Linked DNA regions of Homo sapiens: all the other regions are reported to be linked to region 4. Evidence: microRNA targets listed by miRTarBase, many of them from high-throughput screens and not tested one by one. Region 4 holds a microRNA gene; each other region holds the end of a gene's coding sequence.

The links. The annotated mature microRNA hsa-miR-3189-5p reads UGCCCCAUCUGUGCCCUGGGUAGGA and lies in region 4 at 3,754-3,778, opposite strand. An mRNA with a match to its seed (bases 2 to 7 or 8) in the 3' UTR can be bound and repressed. Matches are read on the target gene's strand: a 7mer-m8 pairs with bases 2 to 8, a 7mer-A1 pairs with bases 2 to 7 and ends in A, and an 8mer does both.
Region 1: the mRNA of HHAT is a reported target of hsa-miR-3189-5p. Seed matches in the 3' UTR shown: 7mer-m8 at 2,529-2,535.
Region 2: the mRNA of EFNA1 is a reported target of hsa-miR-3189-5p. Seed matches in the 3' UTR shown: 7mer-A1 at 809-815.
Region 3: miRTarBase lists NHLRC4 as a target of hsa-miR-3189-5p. Seed matches in the 3' UTR shown: 7mer-A1 at 2,037-2,043.
Region 5: the mRNA of TIMMDC1 is a reported target of hsa-miR-3189-5p. Seed matches in the 3' UTR shown: 7mer-m8 at 1,181-1,187.

What each region holds. Positions count from the first base shown.
Region 1 is chr1:210,671,899-210,678,412 of GRCh38, reverse strand. HHAT (hedgehog acyltransferase) reads right to left here. Exons shown (of 12, transcript NM_018194.6): 12 at 2,123-4,125. The coding sequence ends at 4,034. It overlaps KCNH1 (potassium voltage-gated channel subfamily H member 1), which reads left to right. Exons shown (of 11, transcript NM_172362.3): 11 at 1-99. Among named protein-coding and RNA genes, the nearest start is that of HHAT, 350 kb to the right of the region's middle. RefSeq lists a silencer at 6,431-6,514.
Region 2 is chr1:155,133,815-155,136,814 of GRCh38, forward strand. EFNA1 (ephrin A1) reads left to right here. Exons shown (of 5, transcript NM_004428.3): 5 at 141-1,085. The coding sequence ends at 253. It overlaps SLC50A1 (solute carrier family 50 member 1), which reads left to right and starts at 2,038. Exons shown (of 6, transcript NM_018845.4): 1 at 2,038-2,177; 2 at 2,485-2,562. The coding sequence starts at 2,098. RefSeq lists an enhancer at 1,479-1,568 and a silencer at 1,839-2,078.
Region 3 is chr16:566,866-573,379 of GRCh38, forward strand. NHLRC4 (NHL repeat containing 4) reads left to right here and starts at 140. Exons shown (of 2, transcript NM_001301159.2): 1 at 140-210; 2 at 606-2,630. The coding sequence starts at 1,183. The coding sequence ends at 1,554. It overlaps PIGQ (phosphatidylinositol glycan anchor biosynthesis class Q), which reads left to right and starts at 3,103. Exons shown (of 11, transcript NM_004204.5): 1 at 3,103-3,231. RefSeq lists enhancers at 1-466, 415-464, 4,050-4,944 and silencers at 2,970-3,129, 3,200-3,419.
Region 4 is chr19:18,383,834-18,390,347 of GRCh38, reverse strand. MIR3189 (microRNA 3189) reads right to left here and starts at 3,786; the gene lies at 3,714-3,786. GDF15 (growth differentiation factor 15) reads right to left here and starts at 4,190. Exons shown (of 2, transcript NM_004864.4): 1 at 3,882-4,190; 2 at 1,172-2,062. The coding sequence starts at 4,158. The coding sequence ends at 1,413. RefSeq lists enhancers at 4,066-4,235, 3,824-4,646.
Region 5 is chr3:119,522,742-119,526,464 of GRCh38, forward strand. TIMMDC1 (translocase of inner mitochondrial membrane domain containing 1) reads left to right here. Exons shown (of 7, transcript NM_016589.4): 7 at 865-2,349. The coding sequence ends at 1,015. CD80 (CD80 molecule) reads right to left here. Exons shown (of 7, transcript NM_005191.4): 7 at 1,552-3,008. Among named protein-coding and RNA genes, the nearest start is that of TIMMDC1, 26 kb to the left of the region's middle.

The sequences.
Region 1 (6,514 bases), not on the chromosome of region 4:
TGATGATATTCCCTTCTCAACATTTTTAAACAAGCACAAATGATATTTGTAAAAAAAAAAAGTTTTATTTATTATGGTAATAAACTATTTTATACATGATACTTGCTTTTGCCTTTCCTTACATTACTTTTAGGTCACTGAATTGGCTGTTCTGACCTAAGATGACAGAACAAGGATGGTATTTTCTCTTCAAGAGTTTGGGAAGCTCTTATTTGGACAGCACTTATAGTTTTTTGAGAACTTAAAGTCCAAGATTCACCAAGATTGTGTGTCAAAGTACCAAATAGTGAGAGAATGGACATGAAGGTATGCAGCTGTACAATCTTAAAGTACAGCTGCAGCTGCTGTACAAGGGCACAGATGTTGACTTCAGTGCCTGGGATCACGGAAAACTGTATGACACACGGATCTGAGATACCCAAAGCTGACACCTCCCACCCCACTTAGATGTACACTTTTTTATTTTGAAAACTTTGGATTGAAATTTGTATAAAATATATTAATGCTTCCCTCCTGCCTTTTAAAACGTAGTATGAAGAATATAACAATCTTTTTTGAATGACTCAGTGTCTACAATATGAGCTCTGATCTGTGCTTTACACTTCATTGATAGTCTCAGAAGCTATTAAGTTAGCTTGCCTCTAATCGAAATAGTCCCATACACCAGCATGGTTTCAGTTTTGCTATTTTAATCGGTGTTGCTTCCTGCTCATGGCAAGGCTCCACAATACTGCCAACCTGAGTCCTTATTTACCATCCAGTGGACCACATTACAAACATGGCACTTCTCTTATTATAGACAGTATAACTTAATTAGGAGATGAGGAATCTGACCTACAAGCGTCTACTTGATCTTATAGGATCACAGTAGGGGTACAGTATTTTTAATGTTTCCTTACCCATGATTTAATCAAATTGCACAAAAGCATTATAAAAATAATAAGGGTGATATTGTTTAAAATTCCAAATTATTGATGTTTCAAAATTATCACTAATAACTTATTATTCTTTTTTTTTTTTTTCTTGAGACAGGGTCTCACTCTGTTGCCCAGGCTGGTCTCAAACTCCTGACCTCAAGTGATCCATCTGCCTCAGCCTCCCAAAAGTGCTGGGATTACAGGTGTGAGCCACCACACACAACCTAAAGCATTCTGTCTGATCTCTTCAATGTTGCAAAACATCTCTGTGAATATGATTCTTGTAATTAGTCAAAAGGACGAGTAATATAGAGCTAAGTAATGAATGCCATGTTTTGGGTGCCAAATGGAGTTCAATGATTTTAAAAAGAGGGTTTTTTGTTTTAAAATAAAACCATTTCCCTGAGAAAGCCTCAGAGAGGCTTTCTCAAAATGTGCTGAGGCCAGTAGTATCATACTTTGGCTTCTCATGTTGTCCACACTGAAGGGAACCCTATTGTATGGATATATTCTGATACATCTGCTAAAAACCAAACTCATTATATTACGGTTAATTTACTATGTTTAGTCAATGGTTATATTATTATTCTAAATAAGCAAGTGAGCAGTCTCACTTTCTGTCAGGAGAAGCCACCCCCTCCCCTACCTAAACTGCTATTCTCCCAGTATATAGATTATAATACAATTATTTGTTCATTGATTTATTTTTTCTTGAGGCCTGCTGTCTTTAATGAAACAAAATGTTTTCTGCTGACACTTCAAATTAATTTGAAAAAATAATACCTTTCAGTCTTCTTGTGTGGTCCCAAGAATTAGAATGACTGAGGTTTGGGTGTCCTTCAGGTATCTTGCTTCCCTCCTTGGGTAGCATCTTGGCGATTGTGCTTGGAGCTCTTGGGCTTGCCTGCAGAGCGAGGCTGGGATCAGAGGATCCAGGCGCTGGAATTGACCTTGGGACCTTGTCTATTCTTTTCCCAACACTGCGCCTGAAGTTGCCCAGGGCTGATGACATGTCCAGTGTCATTGCCTGAACTCCTCTGTGCGCCCAGGCACCACCATTCAGAGTAACTACAAGATTTTAGTGAATATGCATGAGGAGAGAAGCATTATCATTTTCATATTACAAGTGGGGAGTAGGAAGAGGTTAAGCAAAACAATGGTCCTGGATAATCCACATATTAATTAATCAGCCTCAAATACAGAGCTAAACACAGTAATCATTTATTAATTCCTGAGAACCATTATGAATCATATAATAGTTTAAAAGAGATTCAGGATTACCACTTTCAAATATATCCACTGACGCTTCCAAAGTAGTTTAATGAATGAATAAACCTATTTGTTTGTATATAAATGGTATACTTGGAAGAGCTCAAAACTTTTGTATTACTTATATGTGCACATACATTAGACACTTCCCTATCATCATTTTTACTCCCTTTTTTCTTAGCAAGCCCTTTCTTTCCAAGTAAACTTCAGTCAGACTCCCTCTGGCTGCCCACAAATCCTCAATCACTGTTGGTCCATGAAGGTTTACTGCGTTCATTTAGGTGCTCACTCCTCCCTGAGGCTCATCCCCTCCTAAAACTTCTGAGCACCCCGGAATTACTGGCCCCATGTCTCTCTCTCTCCTTTACCAAGACAGCTGCTGAGGCTGCTGCTATGCAGGTCTACCTGCCCCTCTCTGGCCTCTGTCTTGCTTTAACACATAATGTGCCTACCCCAGGTAGTCAGTATCTGGCCCCCTCCCATCTCTTTGCCAAGCAGAGAAGCTATGAAGAAAGACAATCAACAAAATGGTCCTGTACTCTAGGAGCTAAAGCCTCATTGAGATGATAACCTCAACTCAAGACATAAGGGCCATGCTATGTAATAAACAGGAGGCAGCACTAGGTCCAAGTGAACCTTTCACTCAATGACAACTTAATTTACGTACTTGAGATGTTGTAAATTCTCCTGTAATTAGATATATTATGGATTCAAATTTTAAGCCTCCTTTATACCCTTCCCCACTCCAAAAAAAAAAAAAATCCAAATTCAAACAAGTCTTCTGAATTATCTACCACTTGGGAACTTTGGTAGCCTATCCAGCATCTTTTCAGAGGAGTGAATAATCAAGTTATGTGAGTATATTTAGATTTTAAACATTTTCCTCAAACATATTCAAAATAATTCTACAAACATGTAGATTATCTACAGGACAGAAAAGGCTCTGTTTGAATCAAACCTTAATAATATAAACCACTAAACGTGAATCACTGAGTAGGAGGATGACTTTTGAGACTTGTATGGAGAGGGTGGACAAGACTCCAGGACACCATCCTCATGACTGGCCTTGATAACACCCATCTGTGGGTACACTATCCTGTGGTTTCTAAATTCTGCTTCTTTATTAAGAAACGATTAACTGTAAGGTAGAGGAACTACCATGTTATACTTCTCTGCAAATCTCAGAAACAAGCACCCAAATGTAGATCACCCTGCTGAAGCTCAGATCACAGGACTCCTTGGGTATAGATGCCTTAGAATGCTACAGGGCTGCTACCGTCTTCTTCGACTACGTAATTCAAAAGACAGCTGTGGCTTGGTCTCATTCCTACAGAGGGGCTGAAGCATGAAACTCAAACCCTAGTGCTGCTTCTGGAGATACTGCAGGATGTGATGAAGGAGGTCACTTAAACATCAATGTCACTCAAATATTTTAGAAATATTGCCCAGAAGACAGGCCTATCACTAATCAGGATTTCTGTGTCTCAATCAATAAATTTCCACTACATTCTATTCTTGCTTAAGGGGAAAGAATGCAAAGGGCTCATGAGACTAGGTTCTAGACCAAAATGTCACCCTGTGTAGCTGGGTAAGACACACGACTGCCCTGGACCCGTTTCCTCAATAGGAAAATGATGAGTTGGGGTAGAAGATCTCAAAGACTCCAGATTAGAAGATTGTCTGGCTGTGAATTTTCTATGAGATCCAGCATCCAGTCTTGGAGTGAGGGCATTCAACTGAAGATGAGCAGATCAAATCCCTTAGAGGCTGTCCTGGAGTGAGAGGTCAGGGTGAAGCACTATTTGCCTTGGAGGCCAGCAACAAGGACTGGCCTGGGCCCAACAGCATTAGTCCGTGGCGTAGGTCTGGGCCCAGGCAATGCCCACGTGGGAGTAGCAGTACAGGAATCCCAGGACAGAGAGGGTCACCCAAGGCCAGCCTGCAGAGGGAGGACAGAGATGGAAGAGCAGTTAGAAATGCTTGGGGCAGGACATCCCACATGGGCAAACTGTCCCCTTTTGGAGAAGGCAACCTGACAAACAACAAAGGCCTCCAGGAAAGTCTGCTGTAATGACAACTTCAGCAATTGAGTCCTACATTCCCATCAGAGTCAGCATAAAATGAGGAGTGCACTATTGCAAACACAAACCATGTTTATGACGAGTTAGTGGGTGCAGCGCACCAGCATGGCACATGTATACATATGTAACTAACCTGCACAATGTGCACATGTACCCTAAAACTTAAAGTATAATAAAAAAAAAAAAAAGAAATAGGGCAAGCTTTTAACGAATCCATGTTTAGAGCCAGGCACCTGTAATCCCGGCACTTTGGAAGGCTGAGGTGGGAGGATCACTTGAGTCCAAGAGTTGGAGACCAGCCTGGGAAACATAGTGAAACCTCATCTCTACCATAAATAAATAAATAAATAAATAAATAAATAAATAAATAAATAAATAAATAATAAATAAGCCAGGCATGGTGGCATGTTTCTGTAGTCCTAGCTACTTGAGAGGCCAAGGAGGAAGGATCACTTGAGATCAGGAGTTAGAGGTTACAGTGAGCTATGAGTGTGCCACTGCACTCCAGCTTGGGCCACAGAGTTAGACCCAGTATTGGTTTAAAAAAAAAAAAAAAAGAAGAATCCACGTTTAGAGGACTAAAGCAGTTAGTAATTGAAAAAGGAAAAAAGTCCATGAGTCTGAGTGTAGTCTCATGTGGCACTGTAAACATGTAGGTCATGTTCCAAAATCTGTACTTTTAGATGAGTTGTTTGAAATCAGGGTACGTTTCCCCCTAGAATAATATTGTGTGATTCATGGACAAGACACAAAAATCACCGTCATCATCACCGTTGTGTGTTTTTTTTTTTAAACTTGTAGTAAATGTGAAATAACACTAATAGGAGCTCTGAGCCCTGGGGCACTTAGGTTCCAGAAGCCCAAATATAGGGTCCTCTGTCCTTCTTGGTCAGCCTCCCCAGAGGTTTCAAGAATTCTAAGTGGTGAGGGGTGGGATAGAGACATGCAGACGTGGCTTGTCCTTGGCAATGAGACAGGAAGGCGCCAGCAGCCAAGAGGGAAAGGGTGCCGGGCAAGATCAGGAGGGTCATTTGATTGGGGCATCACAACATTTCACAGAGAGCTTTATAAATTTAAATTTTTGACATTTCTTTTGAATATGGCTAGCTAGGAAGTCATTACCTTTGTCAATCCAATTGTGTGTGTTAAAAGAAACGAACGACTGTGAAATGTAGGCATTTACAATGAACTACATTTTTTTCTTAAAGTCCATGAGTCCCATAGTAAATCTCAAAATGTAGATTAAGCATTATACTGAATTTAGTGCCATTTGTAAGCACACAGAAGGGGGAGCCTAAATTAAATATTTGCTTTCAAAACTGAAAGCTTTTAGTGATTCCCTCTACAAATACTTGTCTTAGAATATCTGATGTTCTTTTCTTTTTCTTCTTTTTTTAAAATTAACAGCCCTTTCTGCTGAGTATTTGTTACTTAACAATCTTCATGTCTTCTGCATGTTTCACTTACTCAAACATTTACTGGGGGCTTTGGAGAGCCAGAGATGCTGGGGAAGATACAAGATGCCGAAAGGGAAAGACACAGTCCCATGTCAAAGGCACTCCCACTCCAACTTGGGAAAGACACACACATACACCAGTGGGATTTATGATCATGTGGTAAGCACTAGATGATGGAATGCACAGAGCACATTTAAACTGGGCCACGTGGGCTGAGCAAGAGTTTGTCAGATGGGAAGGGACAGGGCCCAGCTACTAGAGGAAGACCACCTTATAGGCCATCCAAGGAACGGGGATCATGTGACGTGGCTGCTGCATAGGGAGGAGGCAGGCAGACAGACAGTGGTAGGAATAGGAAGGAGGCTGCGGGAAGCCCCTGGGGGTGATTACAGGTTCTCTTCTTGTTATGTCAACCATTAGCTGTCATGATTATTAATATGGCATGGGGAAGTCACTGTAGCATAGTGGTATATGTGCAGGCTCTTAAATGGGATGAGTTCAAATTCTGGCTCTGCCACTTGCCAGCTGTGGAACCTCGAGCAAGTTAATGAATCTCAAATGAAAAACTAGGGATACAGCAACTTACTGAATAGTGTCCTTATAAGGATGGAGTGAAATGATGTAAAGACTTGCACAGTGCCTGGCATAGCATGGGAACTAAAAAAAGGTAGTAATAGTAACGGTGGGAGGGCACAGAAGTCTTTCTCTACCAAGATTAGAGTGACAACAGGGAAGTCAAGCCCTGGTCTTCCTTGCGCCTTAGCCTGGCTTTCCACAGTGTTCTCCCAGG
Region 2 (3,000 bases), not on the chromosome of region 4:
GGAAGGGGTCTGCTTGAAGAGGTTGGGTACAGGAGGTGGCTCCTTTACCAGGCTGAGGCTGAGGGAATCCTGTTGGGCTGAGAGCCAGTACAAATAGTGGAGCCACTCACACTGGTGGCCTTTGCCCTCTCACCTTGCAGATGACCCAGAGGTGCGGGTTCTACATAGCATCGGTCACAGTGCTGCCCCACGCCTCTTCCCACTTGCCTGGACTGTGCTGCTCCTTCCACTTCTGCTGCTGCAAACCCCGTGAAGGTGTATGCCACACCTGGCCTTAAAGAGGGACAGGCTGAAGAGAGGGACAGGCACTCCAAACCTGTCTTGGGGCCACTTTCAGAGCCCCCAGCCCTGGGAACCACTCCCACCACAGGCATAAGCTATCACCTAGCAGCCTCAAAACGGGTCAGTATTAAGGTTTTCAACCGGAAGGAGGCCAACCAGCCCGACAGTGCCATCCCCACCTTCACCTCGGAGGGATGGAGAAAGAAGTGGAGACAGTCCTTTCCCACCATTCCTGCCTTTAAGCCAAAGAAACAAGCTGTGCAGGCATGGTCCCTTAAGGCACAGTGGGAGCTGAGCTGGAAGGGGCCACGTGGATGGGCAAAGCTTGTCAAAGATGCCCCCTCCAGGAGAGAGCCAGGATGCCCAGATGAACTGACTGAAGGAAAAGCAAGAAACAGTTTCTTGCTTGGAAGCCAGGTACAGGAGAGGCAGCATGCTTGGGCTGACCCAGCATCTCCCAGCAAGACCTCATCTGTGGAGCTGCCACAGAGAAGTTTGTAGCCAGGTACTGCATTCTCTCCCATCCTGGGGCAGCACTCCCCAGAGCTGTGCCAGCAGGGGGGCTGTGCCAACCTGTTCTTAGAGTGTAGCTGTAAGGGCAGTGCCCATGTGTACATTCTGCCTAGAGTGTAGCCTAAAGGGCAGGGCCCACGTGTATAGTATCTGTATATAAGTTGCTGTGTGTCTGTCCTGATTTCTACAACTGGAGTTTTTTTATACAATGTTCTTTGTCTCAAAATAAAGCAATGTGTTTTTTCGGACATGCTTTTCTGCCACTCCATATTAAAACATATGACCATTGAGTCCCTGCTAAGTGCGAGGCTCTCTGTGCTACAACAGTAGCAACTGGGTTTGAATTTCTTTCTCTCCAAAGAATGTGTGCCCCTCACGAGGCCAAAAGGGTGGGATGTTTCCTCCTCTGAGGGCTGTCCAGGACCGGAGTGCTCCTGACAGCTGTCTCTCGGGTTCTGAGCTGCACTCCACTCTGGAAGTTCTTCCTATCCGACCTCTACCCCACTCCCACTCCGTCACCGCAGGGCTTTGGCATACTACCATTCAGGTACTCACGCTGTTTCGGTGAGTCAGGGAAGCTGGGAACGCCAGCTGAGGCATGCGGCCCCGCCCCACAGCCACACTAGCAGAGACGTGTGGGAGGCTGGGAGGGAAAGTTCCCAGTAACAAGTGGGTTGGACCGGGGGTCAGTGATAGAGGCGTCAGTGGATTGGCCACGTCATGTAAAGTTGACCCGAGAGGGAGGGCAAAAGAGGAAGGCTTGGTGATTCCTGGTAATGTGTTATTTTGAGAAAAAGCTTCGGCAGCACACTCCAGAAAAAAACTTCCCAAACCCTGGGCAACTGAGGTTCTGATGTGGAGCTCTGGATGGAAAGCGTGCTGAAGTCTTGTTAAACTAGCAAGCTTTTGTTTGGAGGTCCACCGCCGAAGGCGCACAGGCCTGTGGGAACACGAGCGTTGAGACTGGGGGCGTCTAGATGATCCAAGGGGTAGGCAGAGTGTGAGCAGCGGCAGGTATCGGGGACACACCCGCGGAGCCCTAGGAAGGGGACTGACCGGGACATGGAAGAGGTCTGGACCAGGGTACTGGGAAGGCGCTCGGAGGAGAGGGGCGCGAGTTCCGGTTCGGCGTCGGAGGGAGGGTGGGGCTTCGGCGCAGTTTCCGGAGGGACGGCCCGAGCGTGCGGGGGCGGAGCCGAGTGCGCGGGGCGGGGCTCCAGAGCCGCAGGTCTGGGCTGCAGTAGGTCCCGGCAACCGCAGGCTCGCGGCGGGCGCTGGGCGCGGGATCCGACTCTAGTCGTAATGGAGGCGGGCGGCTTTCTGGACTCGCTCATTTACGGAGCATGCGTGGTCTTCACCCTTGGCATGTTCTCCGCCGGCCTGTGAGAGTGCGGCCGGGCTGGGTTGGGGAGGACTAGGCAGTCAGGAAAGGAGAGAGAGGGGACAGAGACGTGGCCACAGCACCTGGCTCGTCCGGAACCGGGATCAAAGTGGGATCGGGTCGAGGGGACCGGGGTACAAGGGCGAGGCTGGTCACTAGGCCTGAAGGAGAAGGCAGGATAGCTGGCGGGGGGGAGAGGGGGCGGGGTCTGCGGTGGTCCGGAAAGGATGACAGGCATTGGGCATCCCCCTCTAGCACTCTGCTTCTCCCTTCCCACCCCCACCCCTCCCTTCGGGGCCCCATTACAGCTCGGACCTCAGGCACATGCGAATGACCCGGAGTGTGGACAACGTCCAGTTCCTGCCCTTTCTCACCACGGAAGTCAAGTGAGGGGCCGACGGCTGCGGTAGTGGGAAAGGCTACCAGAGGGAGGTGGGGGCGGGGCAGGAGGAGCAAGAGTGAAAGAGGTTTGGCCGGGCGCGGTGGCTCACGCCTGTAATCCCTGCACTTTGGGAGGCCGAGACGGGCGGATCACGAGGTCAGGAGATCCAGACCATCCTGGCTAACACGGTGAAACCCCGTCTCTACTAAAAATACAAAAAATTAGCCGGGCGTGGTGCCGGGCGCCTGTAGTCCCAGCTACTCGGGAGGCTGAGGCAGGAGAATGGCGTGAACCCAGGAGGCGGAGCTTGCAGTGAGCCGAGATCGTGCCACCGCACTCCAGCCTGGGCGACAGAGCGAGACTACGTCTCAAAAAAAAAAAAAGAGTGAAAGACCCTTTGGGTCCTCCTCTCACACTGAACCCTTTGAGCCATGTCCATCCC
Region 3 (6,514 bases), not on the chromosome of region 4:
GAACACCACAGCATGGGGAGTCCTCAGGGGACCTGGTTTTTCTTTCATAGAAGCTTCAGGGGCCAAGGCCGGAGACTGCACTCTCCCTCCTCCACCCGGCCCAGCTGCGTCCCTGCCAGTGGCTCCTCCCACTTCCTCCAGTTCTAGTTTCCAACAACAGAGGCTGCAGCCACCCAGCCCCGAAGCAGGGCCCAGCGAGACAGGGCCCAGGTAAGAGACCCCTCCCCCCGGCCTCTCTCGGTGGGGCAGGTGGAGGCCCTCGGAATAGGCTGCCTCGCCCCTAAGGGGTCAGAAGTCTCCCTGACCTAGGGGCTCGGGTAGAAGGGCTGTGTGTGGGTGACCGCCCCCCCGCCGTAGAAAGGGGTTCCACAGGCAGATGGATTTGAGAAATGTTGCTTATCTGTCTGAGGCCCATGAGCTCATCTGGGGCTCAGGGGAAAACCCACAGCGAGCTCCACGGGTCATGTGTCTCCCAGACTCAAGTCCCAGGCACCTAGACACTAGGGTGGCCGCTGGGCTTGGTGGCCAGGTAGACCCTCAGGACCAGGAGGACCCGGCCTCATAGGAAGAAACTGGAGGAGTGACTTTGCCATTCCCACACACAGTGGGGCCTTATTCTCTCTCTTGCAGCCCCAAGCGTGACCCAGCTGCAGAGAAGCTGAGACGGTGATTCGGACTGACTGGACTCTGGCCTCCAGGTGTCTGCACCTCACACTGGACCCACCTGGAGACTCCACGGGCTCCCGGCAGCTCCGGCTGCTTGGGTGGATCCGGGTGCCCGCAGGGGCTGTGGGAGGGCCCCGGGGCCTGCACTGCTCCCCCGATGGCCTGCTCTTCCTCACGGCCGGGGCTGCACCCTGTGTCCACGTGCTAGATCTGGAGGGACGCCCCATCTGCCTCCTGCCCTGCCGCACTCCGGGGAGCGGGGCCTTCGTTCCAGAGGACGTGGCTGTGACAGCGTCAGGGCTTGTGGTGGTCAGCGATCCCATCCATGGGGCTGTCCATGCACTCCAGCACACAGCCCGGGACCCCGGGGGCCACTGGGTGACAGTGGGCACCTTCCTGTCTCCCCGAGGGCTGGCTGTGGATGCCCTCAACCGCCTCCTGGTGACGGACTACTTGCCTGGGGCTGTGCACAGCTTCTCGTTGGGTCCTGCTTGGGAGCCCCTGGCCCCAGCCTCCATGCTGGGTCTGGAGGGCCCCTGCTGGGTGGGCCCAGGGCCTGATGGGGGCCTTGCTGTGAGTGAGGAGTTTGGGGATGTGAGGCTGTTTGGCAGTGCCCGCCAACCCCTGGGCTCCCTGGGGGGCTGGACGGGGCACACTTTCGGCTGCCCAGCGGGCATCTGCTCCAACTCAGAGGGCAATGTTATTGTGGCAGACGAGCAGAGGCGCCAGGTGACCCTGTTTCCCCGGGCTGGGCCACCCATCTGCCTGGTGTCAGAGGGGCTTGGGCAGCCCTTGGGAGTGGCCTGTGCACCCCAGGGCCAGCTCCTGGTGGCTGATGCCAAGGACAACTCCATCAAGGTGTACCAGGGCCTCAAGGAGCTGGCCTGACCTGAGGCTGGGTTGGAGCAGCCCTCCTGTGCCTGAGGCCAGCTCCCAGGCCCTTGGATCACCGCGGGAGGAACCCTCAGGATGGGTGGAGCCTCCAGGCTATGGGCATTGCCTGCCTGATGCCAGCACCACCTGGGCTGGGCCCTGGGCTTGGCTCGAGTTCTCCTGCTGGTGAGGCTCCGGATCTCAGGAGCAGCCCTGAGTCTGCTTCCCAGGCTGCCCCTGCCAGGCCTGCAGCCTCCCCAGCCAGGGCTGCTCTCTGCTGTCCCCATTCAGTGCCCTGGCCCCTGCATTCATGCCCCCCACACCCCCTCAGGCCCTGTGCCTGGACTTTGGGGCTGGCAGCTGAAGCCTTGAGATCCTGGGCCAGCTGCCGGCACACAGCTAGGCAGACTCTCCCACCAGGTGCCCCTGCCCAGGCCTCCTAATCGGGGGCAGACAGGCAGGGAGGGTGTGGCTGGGCTGGGCTGGGCGGGGCGGCCTGGGGCAGGGGTGTGGCCCCTAAATGTCCCCAACCTCAGAGGGACCTAGAGTCCTGAGCCTCCAGTAGCTTCTCTGGGCCTGGCAGAGGTAAGGGGGAGGCAACCCTGGAGTGTCTGGAGGCCCATGGCTGGCTGAACCCTGGATGCCTTTTCTTCCGCGTCCCCATGAATGAAAGCTGTCTGGGCCTTCATTCTGCAGACAGGGACAAACAGCTCCATGCTGTTTGTCCTCCCAGTGCAGCCGTGCTGGGAGGGTCTGGGGGAGCTTCCTACAAGGAGAGACTCCTGCTGCTTTGGAAAACTGAGAAAAAATAGGGGTCTAACCCTCTCCTCCCATTTTACAAGTGGGGAAATGAGGCGTGAAAGGAGAGGCGTCTGGGTTACTCCGTGGGTCTGGGGTCCAGGGAAGGGCCTGTATGGGGGAGGGAGCTGGGAGGGGACGGTGTCTGGCTCTACCCCTGTGGGGTGGGGAGGTGGGGCTCCCCTGTATCACAGGACATCCCCCCTGAGAGGTCCCTCATATGTCTGGGTCCTGTGGGTGGGGGACTAACTGCGCAATGTAGTTAGGTGCTCAATAAACGGAGTTGCCGCTGAGGTCTGGGCTGGGGTCTTGTTCCTGGGATCGGGAGGGGCTGGACGCCTGTGTGTTCTCTCCTGACGATCGCTGGCGGCAGCCTCTGGGCTGGTCCTACCAGGGCTCAAAATTCCCGGCACCACTGGCCTTGGGGATCTGGGGGCGGCCCCTCTGCAGACAACAGAGTGACGGGGGCGGGACCGGGCTGGGGCTGGGGCCTTCCTGGAATCCCGCAGGGCCTGGGGACCTGTTCACTTGGGGAGGCTGGGAGCCAGGCGGGGTCCGGGTTCCACGAAGGCCAGGTCCAGTCAGTTTCTCAGGTGAGGAAACCGAGCTGACGCGGGGCTGGCGGCCCGGAGGCAGGCTCGGGAGGTCCGGGCCTGGGGACTGGGCGGGCACGCTGCGCCGCGGAACGCTCGGGTCGGGCGGGCGGGCGGGCAGCCCGGGCGCCTTTGGGGGCCGGACCGTCGCGCGGCAACGCGCGGAGCCGGCGGAAGTGGGGCTCGGGTCCCGCGGCGGGGCTGGAGGCAGCGAGCGCCGTCGTCTGCCCGGGCCCGCCCATCGGGGTCCCCAACCCCATCCGGACCCCGCCGCCCGAGCGCGCGGCCCCGGAAGCACCCGGTGAGCAGGGGGGGTGGGCGGCGCGCGGCGGGACCTCGGGCAGCGCCCCTGCGGCTCCGGGCCTGGGCTGGGGGCTCCGCACTCCCGCCCGCGGCGCCGCTGCTTTCTCCTCCCAGAAGTGGGGCCGCCCCCGGGCCCGCGCCGACCTGGGCCCCTGTGGACCCTGTGCAAGGGCGGTCGGCGGCCCGGGCCTGGCTGTGGGCCCTTCGCAGTTGTCCCGGTTTGCAGGAAAGGGCAAAAAACGGAATCGTAGGCTCTTCCCAAATGAGAGGGGAAGGCCCTGCTTGAGGAAGGCAAGCAAGTTTGTTTGTTTGTTTGTTTTGAGACGGGGTCTCACCATGTTGCCCAGGCTGAACTCGTGTTTGTTTTTCATTATTTATTTATTTTGAGAGGGAGTCTCGCTCTGTCGCCCAGGCTGGAGTGCAATGGCGCGATCTCGGGTCACTGCAACCGCTGCCTCCCGGGTTCCAGCGATTCTCCTGCCTCAGCCTCCCCAGTAGCTGGGATTACAGGTGCCCACCACCACGCCCGGCTAATTTCTGTATTTTTAGTAGAGACTTGGTTTCACCCCCATCGAGGCTGGTCTTAAGCTCCTGACCTCAAGTGATCCGCCCGCCTCGGCCTCCCAAAGTGCTGGGATTACAGGCGTGAGCCACCGCGCCAGGTTGGTGTTTATTTTTCAAACAAGGCGCTGGGAAACGCAAATTCTCCAGAGCTCTTGTGGAGCGGTGGCAGGGAGGGGCGGCTCAGCCAGAGATGGCCCTGGCCCGTCCTAACTGGGCTGGGGTGCCCCCATTCCCTCATTCACGGGGAGGAGAGGGAAGTCTTAGTCTTACTACTTTATATGGTCGACCTCCCTACCTGCCTGGTCTGGGAATGGCTTCTCAAGAGCACTCGGGCTCATTCTTAGCAGAGGAAGCTCTTCTGGCTAGCCTGGCGCCCGTGTGTGTGTGTGTGTGTGTGTGTGTGTGTGTGTGTGTGTGTGTGTGTGTGTGTGTGTGTGTGTGTGTGTCTGGCTAGCCTGGTGCCCGTGTGTGTGTGTGTGTGTCTGGCTAGCCTGGCACCCGTGGCTAGCCTGGCGCCCGTGTGTGTGTGTGTGTGTGTCTGGCTAGCCTGTGTGTGTCTGGTTAGCCTGTGTGTGTGTGTGTGTGTCTGGCTAGCCTGTGTGTGTGTGTGTGGCTAGCCTGGCGCCCGTGTGTGTGTGTGTGTCTGGCTAGCCTGGCAACCATGGCTAGCCTGGTGCCCGTGTGTGTGTGTGTGTCTGGCTAGCCTGGGACCCGTGGCTAGCCTGGTGCCCGTGTGTGTGTGTCTGGCTAGCCTGTGTGTGTCTGGTTAGCCTGTGTGTGTGTGTGTGTGTTTGTGTCTGGCTAGCCTGTGTGTGTCTGGTTAGCCTGTGTGTGTGTGTGTGTGTGTGTGTGTGTGTGTCTGGCTAGCCTGGCGCCTGTGTGTGTGTGTGTCTGGCTAGCCTGGTGCCCGTGTGTGTGTGTGTGTGTGTGTGTGGCTAGCCTGGCGCCCGTGTGTGTGTGTGTGTGTGTGTGTTTCCTCAGTCTTTAAAGATGCTCACGTTGCTTTCTCCCGTCCCATACCTCCTCTGCTATCGATCGCTTCTCTTTCATCTTCCTCTGGCTGTGTGATCCCAGCAGCTGCTAGTGCAGGCTTCTTTGTGCCGCCGACCGTCCCAGAGGCTGAGGTGGGAGTGTGATGGGCGTTTGCCCCACAGTACGTTGAGTTTTCTCTCACTACTCGACAGAGAAGAGTAGCTTCTGCCCTCCCATCTCCTTCGGTAGACACAAGGCACTTTTTTTTTTTAAGGTAAACTTTGTAGATGAAGCACAAAGAATACACACAAAGAAAGCGCACAGATCGTGAGCACGTAGCTCGGTGAATTTACCCAAAGTGAGCCCACCGCAGAACCAGCTCCCCCTAGAACATCTGTTTACTGTTAGACCCATTGTGTTTCTTTTCCGACGATATCTGTGGGCAGTTTTCCTTAGTCCCTGTGAAAGCTCTTCCCCAGCAGGGCGTGATGGGTCCCTGGGCTGAGCTGGTGTGAAAGGTGGGCTGTACTGGGTGGTCCCCTATGGTGGTCACACAGCCAGACACGCTGGGCCCCTTGCAGGCAGAATCACTTTGTCCCTCTCACGATGTCCTTGGTGCCTCACGTCAGCTGGCCTCCAGGCATCCACCCGCCGCCTGCCCTCTCTGACCACTGAGGAAATGGGCATTTGAGGAGTTCTGCAGCCTGACCCAGAAGGTCCCTTTTCAGCTAGAACCCACCGCCTTGAGTGACTGGATCCTCCAGCCCCAGTGCGGGCTGCCTGCAGGGGAGGAGAGCAGCTGCACCAGGGGCCTCTTAAGCCCCAGGCATTTCCGTGTGAGGCCTCTTCCAGAGCCCCTCCAAGCTTCGGGAGAGGACTTACAGGTCACACCACCCCGACGTGTGCATCCTGCTCTGTTCCCTCGTCCCTAAGGATGTGGTGGGCTCTGAGACCTCCAGGCATCCTGGTCTGTTCCCTCATCCCTAAGGGCGTGGTGGGCTCTGAGACCTCCAGGCATCCCACTCTGTTCCCTCGTCCCTAAGGGCGTGGTGGGCACTGGGACCTCCAGGCGTCCCGCTCTGTTCCCTCGTCCCTAAGGATGTGGTGGGCACTGGGACCTCCAGGCGTCCCGCTCTGTTCCCTCGTCCCTAAGGATGTGGTGGGCACTGCGACCTCCAGGCGTCCCGCTCTGTTCCCTCGTCCCTAAGGGCGTGGTGGGCGCTGGGACCTCCAGACCCAGGCTCAGGCCAAGCTATGTCCCTCCCTCGAGTGTGGCTCCAGCGTGGGGGGTCTCTGCTCAGGGTGGCCGCTCCACTCTTCGTGCAGGCGAGATGGGGCTTTCTGTGTCTGAGGAAGGCGAGCGGCCCAGCCAGCCGGCCAGTAGTGCCCCCACCGCTAGGGAGTCCTCCTGCCCTGTGGGGCCCCGCCAGGGAAGGCATCAGTGGAGAAGGAGCCCCAGCTGGCTGCATGGCTCCGCAGGGGCCTGTGAGAAAGGGGGAGGAGAGGCCCAGGGCCTGGGAACCGCGGTAGCTCAGGTGGCTTCCTACTCAACAGCCACCTTGGAAGGCTGGTGTCCCTCAGCCTGAGAGTGCAGGATGCAGTTTCTCCACACCTCCGGGACCTGTAAGCCTCTCTCTCCCCGTTTCTAGGCACCCATGTCGTTGGAGAAATATATCCTGGAGAGAAAATGCTCCCTGAGGGAGCCCTGCCCTGGGGTGGCTGTGGGGATGTCAGGGAGGGCCAGG
Region 4 (6,514 bases):
CTTTCTTAGGATTTACTCATTTGTCCCCTTCACTCAACCAGGCTCCGCAAAGTGGGGTGGTCCTTGTGTGTCTTTTTACAGCTGTGTCCGGGGCCTGGCATAAAGTGGGCACTCACTGAATACGTTAAGGGGAACCTGCAGTCATTCAGGTTGGCCTGTGGGTGATGGCATTCCCAGCAGATACACCTCACTGCTGGAAGTGGGTACTCTGTCCCTCAAGACACCCATCGCCATTCCTCTCAGAGATTCAGGATGGGCAGGCAGTTTGGTGTGGAGAGGGGGCTGGACTCAGCACACCTCAAAATTCCAACATCCTAAACAGGAAGTATATATAACCTGGGAGATGTGGTGTGCATGAAAATATTCTTCACAACTTATTTGTTTCTCCCTACTCTTTATATGTGAAAGAATGAGGTGTCACTAACATGGAAGTGCCACAAACAGGAGGGGTGATGGGACTAACCCCTCAGGTTGGGGACAGTACCACAAAACAAGGCACTTGGTTGCAGATAGACTTGGCTCTGAGCTGCCTGTGTTTGGAAAGGTGACTCCCAAGTGGGGAGAGCAACAGGATGGTGATAGAGACAAAGACAGAGACAGATCCTCTGCCTCAGACCCCAAAGAGAGAAGTTTTGAGGAATGAGGAAAGATGGAGGGAAGCTGAGACTTAAAAAGGTATGGGGTCTCAGCTGTTTCCAAAACAGAAACACCAGCCTGGGCAACATGGCGAAACTCAGCCTCTACAAAAAATACAAAAGTTAGTTGGGCATGATGGCATGCACTTGTAGTCCCAGCTACTCAGGTGGCTGAGGTGGGAGGATCGATTGAGCCCGGGTGGTTGAGGCTGCAGTGAGCTGTGATTGTGCCACTGCACTTCGGCCTGGGCAACAGAGTGAGACCCCGTCTAAAAAAAATAAAAAGAAAAAAGAAACAGCAATAAGGAGATAGAGAAATAGAGACAGAGAGTCAGGGAGTCAGGAATGGCCAAGGCTGCCCTTAGAGCCCACAGGTGTCGTAAGCACCTTCCAATGGCTTGGCATCTCCGAGAACACCTTGCCACTCATTCCTTGAGCCTTTCCACTTACCCCCTCCCAGGTCTCCTAGAGAAACTGAGGTCAGGGAGAGGAGGATCTTCTCAAGGTCACCTTCCCTTATCCTGGACACCACAGGGAACAGTTCAGACAGCTTTATTTTTATCACCAGAGTTTTAAATAAATACACAGTTCCATCAGACCAGCCCCCGAGTCCCCAAGAAGGTCACCCCAATAAATTAATAATAAATAACAGACTTATATAAATACAGCTGTTTGGGCAGGAATCGGGTGTCTCAGGAACCTTGAGCCCATTCCACAGGGCAGGACAACTGAGGTCGCGTCCTCCGCGCAGGTGCACAGTGGAAGGACCAGGACTGCTCATATGCAGTGGCAGTCTTTGGCTAACAAGTCATCATAGGTCTGGAGCGACACCCCGGTGTCGGTCTTTTGAATGAGCACCATGGGATTGTAGCTGGCGGGCACGCAGCAGGGCGCTGGCACCGTGTCGGGCTTCAGGCGGTGCAGGCTCGTCTTGATCTGCGCGTGCATGTTTGCCGCCCGGAACTGGCTCGGGCACGCGCCGATGCACATGGTCACTTGCACCTCCCGTGGCGACAGCACCCAATCGGCCCAGCCCAGGTCTTCCAGCGACGCGCGGACCGTGTGCAGACGGCAGCAACGCCCGGGCCCGAGCGGACAGTGGTCCCCGTTGCGCGCACGCGCTCTGCGGCGCCCCCTGGCGGCTTGCGGCCGCAAGTGCAACTCCAGCTGGGGCCGTGCGGACGAAGATTCTGCCAGCAGTTGGTCCGACTGCGACGGCGGCGGCGACAGTCGCAGGTGCAGCGCGGGCGCCTGGGGTCTTGCAAGGCTGAGCTGACGCCGCAGCGGTCGTGTCACGTCCCACGACCTTGACGCCGTCGGGGACAGCCGGAACAGAGCCCGGTGAAGGCGGGAGGCCTCGGGGAGCCCCTCGGGAAGGGCGGCCCGAGAGATACGCAGGTGCAGGTGGCCGCCGGATCCCAGCCGCACTGTGGGAAGACAGATAGGGAAGCTGGTCACCCACAGGCCTACCGTTTTCCAGGAACGAGGGTGCCCATTTCCCCTAACACGCCAAGCTGGATCTCACCACGGCGGCGGCGCCTTTGCACAAGTTATTTCCCCTACCAAGAGCATTTCTCCGTGCGGGCGCGGTGGCTCACGCCTGTAATCCCAGCACTTTGGGAGGCCGATGCAGGTGGATCACTTGAGGTCAGGAGTTCAAGACCAGCCTGGCCGATATGTGGCCAATATGGTGAAACGCCCGCTTCTACTAAAAATACCAAAAATTAGCTGGGCATGGTGGCTGGCGCCTGTGATCCCAGCTACTCGGGAGGCTGAGGCAGAAGAATGGCTTGAATCGGGGCGGTGGAGGTTGCAGTGAGCCAAGATCGTGCCACTGCACTCCAGCCTGGGCAACAGAGGAAGACTCCCTCTCAAAAAAAAAAAAAAAAAAAAAAAAAAGGGCATTTCTCCCCTTGAATCTCCTGAATCTCAGTATGGCTGGCTCCTCCTCTTCCTTCCAGCCTGCCTAAAATAGGAAGCACCCTATTTTATTTCCTTGTGTATCATTCATATTCCCTACTTAGAATCTTAGCTTGGTTGACACTGTGCCTGGCACACAATAGGTGCTTAGTAAATACTTGAAGGAATTAATGTATATCTGATATTCAGGCAGCCTGAGATTCCAACCATGGCTCTGCTTTTCTTCTGGCAGTCAAAAACTTACTTGCTTCACTTATTTATTTATTTATTATGGTCTTGCTGTTACCCAGGCTGGAGTGCAGTGGGGCACTCATGGCTCAGTGCAGCCTCAATCTCCTGGATTCAAGTGCTCCTCCCGCCTCAGCCTCCTGAATAACTGAGACTACAGGCACACACCATCATGTCTGGCTAATTTTTTTTAAACATTTTTGGTAGAGATGGATTCTCGCTATACTGCCCAGGCTGCAATGTTCTGGCCTAAAGCGATGCTCCCACCTTGGCCTCCTAAAGTGCTGGGATTACAGGTGTAATCCCGAGAAATGAAGAGTGCCAAACCCATCACATTCCAGACTACTGAGCCTCTAGGAATCACAGCCCCTCAGGCTGGTACAAGTGTTAGGGAGACTGGGGAGACTGGGGTTTGAGGGTGCCTTAACCTAGTTGCTAGGCTTAGCAAGGGTGAGAGGTTTGCCGGAGTCACACGGCACAGATGGGTTTAGGGCGGGCTAAGAGTGTGCCCCTCTGCCTGCCCCCTCCTGGGTCCCACCACAGCCCAGACCTCATCCAGTGCCCTGCACCCCTGGAGCCTCCATGGAGGGCACAGAGATGGGGAAAATACTCTCCTCCTCCCCTAACAAGTCGCTCGTTGCATGTGACTTTAGCAGTGCCTTGACAAGCGATTTCATCAGATTCAGAACCAGCTCCAGCTGGCTCTGCCCATCACAAACTTCTATCCATGCACCACACCCCCATTGTTTCTCTTGGATCCTGGCCCCAGCCCAGGTCAGGGACCATGCCCACACCGCACGCCCGACCCCGTCCCCGGGTTTCCCAGGTGCTGTGCACATTCAGGAGGGTCCCTGGCATCCCTGTACCTCAGTTTCCCCATTTGCAACTTGGGGACAGGTTATAACCTCCCACGTTGTGGGTGCAAATCAGGCATCGGCTACCCCATCAGACCCAAGGGGATCCAGGATATTCCTACCCAGGGCACAGATGGGGCAACTGAGGCTCAAAGGTAGGTCTGGGCTTTTCAAGATGAGGAATCCCTGATTAGATATGGGGGCTGCTTGGGGGGTGGGAGGGGATCTCTAAGATTTCACTTACCTTCTGGCGTGAGTATCCGGACTGCAGGGGCCGGGACGAGGTCGGTGTTCGAATCTTCCCAGCTCTGGTTGGCCCGCAGCCTGGTTAGCAGGTCCTCGTAGCGTTTCCGCAACTCTCGGAATCTGGAGTCTTCGGAGTGCAACTCTGAGGGTCCCGGGAAACTTGCGCGGCTCGCCTCGGCCAGAGACAGGGCGCCCCCATGCGGCAGCCACGAGAGCACCAGCAACACCAGGAGCATCTGAGAGCCATTCACCGTCCTGAGTTCTTGCCCGGGCATGGCTGTGCAGGTTGCGGCTCTGAGCTGGGACTGACCAGATGCTGCCGGACCGGCCTTTATAGTCCCCGGACTTTGTCCGTCTCCGCCTGCTCAGTCCCGCCCTCCTCCCCCTGCCTGCAGAGTAAACACTCCAATGACCACAGCTGGGCGGGGTCTGGGGGTGTATTTAGGGGGAGGATCTTTAGGTGGGGGCGCTCCTAGTAAAGCTAGGGCACATTTCTGGGCCTCAGTATCCTCTTCCTCGATATGAGGACACCATTCCAGCCTGGGAGTCTTTTTGGAGGAAAAAAAGACATTGTTACTATGTGAAAAATTCCAGACAAGAGTTTAAGAGGTGGCTGTCTATGCCCATGGGATTTCCTCTCTTCTCTTTTTGGTTGGGGTCAAAGGCTAAAGATGGTGAAAAACAAAGGAAGCAGAGGAGAACGGGCTAGATGGAGCCAGGAAGGGCAACCTTGATGTGTCATGCCTCTCTGCCATGCCTGTTTCCTCACCAGGAAAAAAAGGACTGAGACTCTCACTGGAGAGGTGGTCAAATGAGGGGTAAAGCACAGGGCCAGACACATAGGAGGCACTTGATAAACTGGGTGTTATTGCAGTTACTCATCCTCCTCTGGAGAACTCCTACTCATTCTTCAAAACTCTACGCAAAAAGCCCCTCTTCCAGGAAGTCTTCTCCAACATTATCTTTCCAGTCTAAGCAGGGTGCTCCCAAACCCCATCCTTTTGTCTGGCTCAGCGCTCACCTTGAAGCCATCCTCACAGGATTCATAATTCTGGGGGCCAGGCATGGTGGCTTATGTCAGTAATCTCAGCACTTTGGGAGGCCGAGGTGGGTGGATTGTTTGAGCCCAGGAGTTCGAGACAAGTCTGGGCAAGATGGCAATACCTCATCTCTAAAAAAAAGAATTCTGCGCCGGGCACGGTGGCTCTCGCCTGTAATCCCAGCACTTTGGGAGGCCGAGGCACGTGGATCATCTGACGTCAAGAGTTCTAGACTAGCCTGACCAACATGGAGAAACCCTGTCTCTACTAAATATACAAAATTAGCTGGGCTTGGTGGTGGGATTACATGCCTGTAATCCCAGCTACTCGAGAGGCTGAAGCAAGAGAATCGCTTGAACCCAGAGGGCGGAGGTTGCAGTGAGCCAAGTTTTCACCATTGCACTTCCGCCTGATCAACAAGAGCAAAACTCTGTCTCAAAAAAAAAGAATTCTGGACAGAAACTTAGTTATAATTAAGCACTAATCAGGCTGCACTTTGACCCACTTCCTTGTGACCGCAAGTTGCTTGTAGCACCTGATACCGACCATTTGCTATAGATGTGATTTCCGACCTTAGAATCATAAGACTTTTTAGAAGAATTTCTTAAGATGTTTTTGAAATCCTTAACCAATGACACCCACCAGTGTGAAGACCCCACAGAGGAACGGAATCTGCATGAGAATACAGTTTCTTACTGTCTGTGACTTCACCTCCTGCACTCTTTCACCAAGCAATGACCTCCACACTTCAGCCCACTCCAAAATCCTTAAAAATTAAAACTCTAGCCCCTGGCCAGGTGCAGTGGCTCACGCCTGTAATCCCAGCACTTTGGGAGGCCAAGGCGGGCGGATCACCTGAGGTCAGGAGTTCGAGACCAGCCTGACCAACATGATGAAACCCTGTCTCTACTAAAAAATTTCAGAAATTAACCGGTCGTGGTGGCACATGCCTGTAATCCCAGCTGCTCGGGAGCCTGAGGCAGGAGAATCGCTTGAACCCAGGAGGCGGAGGTTGCAGTGAGCTGAGATCATGCCATTGCACTCCAACCTGCAAGCTCCAGCTCCCAGGTTCATGCTATTCTCCTGCCTCAGCCTCCTGAGTAGCTGGGACTATGAGCACCCCCCACCACGCCTGGCTAATTTTTTTTTGTATTTTTAGTAGAGATGGGGTTTCACCGTGTTAGCTAGGATGGTCTCAATCTCCTGACCTTGTGATCCGCTGGCCTCGGCCTCCCAAAGTACTGGGATTAGAGGCGTGAGCCACCACGGCCGGCTGACTCCATCTTAAAAAAATATATATATTTGTATATATACATTTATATGGCCCCAAACTCCTCCTCCTGGAAATGGATTTGAGGTTCCCTCCTATCTCCTCATTGGGTGGCCCTAGGATTAAATCTCTTTTTTTTTTTTTTTTTGAGACGGAGTTTCTCTCTGTCCCCCAGGTTGGAGTGCAGTGGCACAATCTCGGCTCACTGCAACCTCCGCCTCCTGCCTCAGCCTACTGAGTAGCTGGGATTACAGTCATGCGCCACCACACCTGGCTAATTTTTGTGTTTTTAGTAGAGACGGTGATTCACCATGTTGGCCA
Region 5 (3,723 bases), not on the chromosome of region 4:
TGAAAGAATACTTTGGCAGAATGAAAGTGTCAAAATTGTATAGCATATACACGTATGGGTGTTTGTGTGTGTGTGTGTGTGTGTGTGTGTGTGTGAGATATTTCTAAGGAGAGTTAATAAACGTTTAAGTGTCTTGTATGTGCCTACTTCTTCGCTTGAAAATAATACAGGAAAATCAAACAAATTGAGAGTCAAAAAAATTGCCTCAATGAGCAGAAAATGTAGAAAACTGACTATAGAGATATAGAAGAACAAATGACCAAATCTGTGAAGAGTTGAGAAGAAACTTTAATCCCGATAATCACTTAAGGAAGACACTAATACTTGATTTAGAAACAGAACTGATCTATTATTTGGAAATTAGTTTTTAACTCTTCATAAATATAAATCTATAGTTTTGTTCTATCTGACTTTTCTCTACCTTGGATTACCATTGTTATAGCCTTTGACCAGTTCCTAAAAGGTCTGGTCACAGAGTTTAAGAGTGGCAGGGTACTTACATTCCCCCAGCCCTGGGAGCAAGAGGACAGCGAGACTTCAAGCCTTCACACCTTAGCACAAAGTGTGTCAGTTCCCACACATCACTCCTGTGAGAACTCTAGGACCCAGCATACTAGGAATATCTTATGGATCAGAGCTGTCACCACAACGGTATCCATTATGGTAATGTGGAAATCATAATTGGCTTGTGAGGTTAGGAGAGAGAAGAAAGTTACTGTATTTGAAGTTCAGGGAGCAGTATTTGCTTCTAAATTGCTATACCAAAGCAGGGAGGAAAAGACAAATGCTATCCTTTTTGTTTTAAATCTGTAAGAACTAAAGAAATGGAGCAGTATTTGATTTATCCTTTTTATCTGATTACAGGAAAGGCAGACTACAAGTTACTGAGCACCTCCCTGAGAAAATTGAAAGTAGTTTACAGGAAGATGAACCTGAGAATGATGCTAAGAAAATTGAAGCACTGCTAAACCTTCCTAGAAACCCTTCAGTAATAGATAAACAAGACAAGGACTGAAAGTGCTCTGAACTTGAAACTCACTGGAGAGCTGAAGGGAGCTGCCATGTCCGATGAATGCCAACAGACAGGCCACTCTTTGGTCAGCCTGCTGACAAATTTAAGTGCTGGTACCTGTGGTGGCAGTGGCTTGCTCTTGTCTTTTTCTTTTCTTTTTAACTAAGAATGGGGCTGTTGTACTCTCACTTTACTTATCCTTAAATTTAAATACATACTTATGTTTGTATTAATCTATCAATATATGCATACATGAATATATCCACCCACCTAGATTTTAAGCAGTAAATAAAACATTTCGCAAAAGATTAAAGTTGAATTTTACAGTTCGTATATTCATGTGGTCCTTTGAAAGGGTATTCTAGAAATCACTGGAAAGAGGAGAGGAAAGAACCAGGTAGGCAAATGGTCTGTGAAACCCTTGGGTCCTGGAAGCAGTGTGAGTGTAAATGTGTAGTGTTTGGTTTCATCTAAATAAACAAAGATGATTTCTTTGACACTTGAAATAAAATACAAATTCAACAAAAAGTAGATCAGCATTATTAAAGAAACGGTTCAACTTTGTTTCTTCCCTTAGTATTGCTGACAAAGTATCTGCTGTAGAATACAGGAATTACTTAGAATAGAAACATAGTCATCACAACTGTTACTAAATGGAAAAGAAAAGAATTATTGAGTTAAGTATTCCTGTCAATACGGGAAACACTGCTAGTACCTTATGTTGGTGTTAGACCTCTCTGCCCTACACTGAGAATATAGTTTTACACAGGAGCAAGGTTTGTGAAGCAGCATAGTGAGGTAGCTAAAGCCATGGGCTGGCTCTAAAGGCTTTAAATCCCAGCCATGTGGCTTAGCTGCCATGAGATGTGCATTTGAGAAATGTTGTCTTCTTTTGCTGTTCAACTCCAGATTTTCAGATGATAATGTGATTATCCCAGCTTAAGTTGCGTCCACTTCTGGTCTAGTGAATTGTGGAAGGCAGTTTTAGAGAAAGGAGTCATGAGTAACATGAACAGCAGTTGGCTATGTCTTTCCAGTTCTCTGCTGATGTCAGAAAGACCCAGAAATACCAAGGAGAAAAAGCCATCTTAGGGATCTAAGGAGGCCCTATGGAAAGTTACTACCTTAGACATTTGAAGATAGCTTACTGCTTAGTACATACACTGTAAACAACGATCTCATTTTAAATGAGAACTTTCTCATAAATATTTTACAAATGAGGTCAAACTAGCATAAAGCCATTTAAAGAGATTATCAGTCCAATATGAACCAGTTAAGTCTTTGGACTATCCCTTTCCTCCTTGACTACTGCTTTGACGTACCTAAATCATTCGTCTTACATGTCAGAGGAAATTAGTTTTGGATAGTTCTCCTTTCTGCTGTACCTCATGGGGGAGTGAGAGAGCAGCAATAGAGAACACAATGAAAAAAATGGAATACTGGGTAAACACCAATAATATTTCCATTAGTCTCCTAAAGATGTTCATGCCATACTTCCTATGCATTACATTGGGCTTTTGTAAACAGCAGCATAAAATCTTCTACTCTGACATTAGGAAATCAGATAGTCTCTGAAGTTGACCTGTTATTGGACAAATTCTACTTCCAGCAGCACTTTGCCTGACATATATATGTATATACCAGTTAACAGGCCACAGTCAAACTGATAAAGGGAAAGAGCACCAGAGTTAGGAAATCTGGGTTCTGGCGCTGGCCTTTATAATTCGGGTCACCTCCCTGGGCCTCAGTGCCTTTGTCATTAATAACACTGGTATTCTCTAAAGTCCCTTCCAGAACTCAAGAATTCTGCATTTCAAAACACCTTGATCAAGGTCACCAGAGCTACTTCTGTGCCCACCATATTCCTCTAGACACTTCCTGCAAAGCAACTGAAGTGAAGAAGCACCTAAGAGCAGATACGTAAAGGGCAAGGTGGGGTAATCTTGTCCATCTGAGGAAGTTCCCAGAAGAGGTCAATTGCAAATGGAGGTGGGACCTGAGAAAACAAAGAAATGATTACATCAAACCCTATATTGGCAAAGGAGGAAAACATCTTAAATTTATTTATATATTAAATTATACATATATAATTTTTAAATTATATATGTATATATGTATATATAATTTAATTATATATGTATATATATATATTTTAAATATAAGATCTTAATTTTAATCTCTTAATTTACATTTTAATCTCAAGATCAAGGGTATTCCCAGCTTGTACACAGTAACCTTGATAGCTGAAGAATATGAAGGGAAAGCTGAATTATGAGAGAACTTAAAACTACTCTGGCAATTTTTGTCACATGAAATATCGATCAGGCAAATGTTTAGTTATTACCAGCTATTACCAAACGACCAAATGCTTGATCAAGCCACTCTTCTATGTGTGGGGCTCTCAGGCATGGTTGCTTTTCTCAATAAACCTACATACAGTCCAGTAAAGGATAGAAGGAAGATGTGGTACATGAAAATCAACCTATGCTGGTGGTATGAGATGTGCTATAGAGGTGGAACTGCTTGAGCTAGACAAGATGACCACAGAAGGCCTTGTGTAGAAGATTGGGTACACGGCTTCATTTTGAAGTATCAGCAGACTGAGCAGAAGACTTTTTAGATAGAAAGTCAAGAAAATTGTAGATAATGACAGAACTGAGCCAGAGCAACATCCTGGAAAAGACATTCTGAGGAGTGAGCAAGCATTCAGT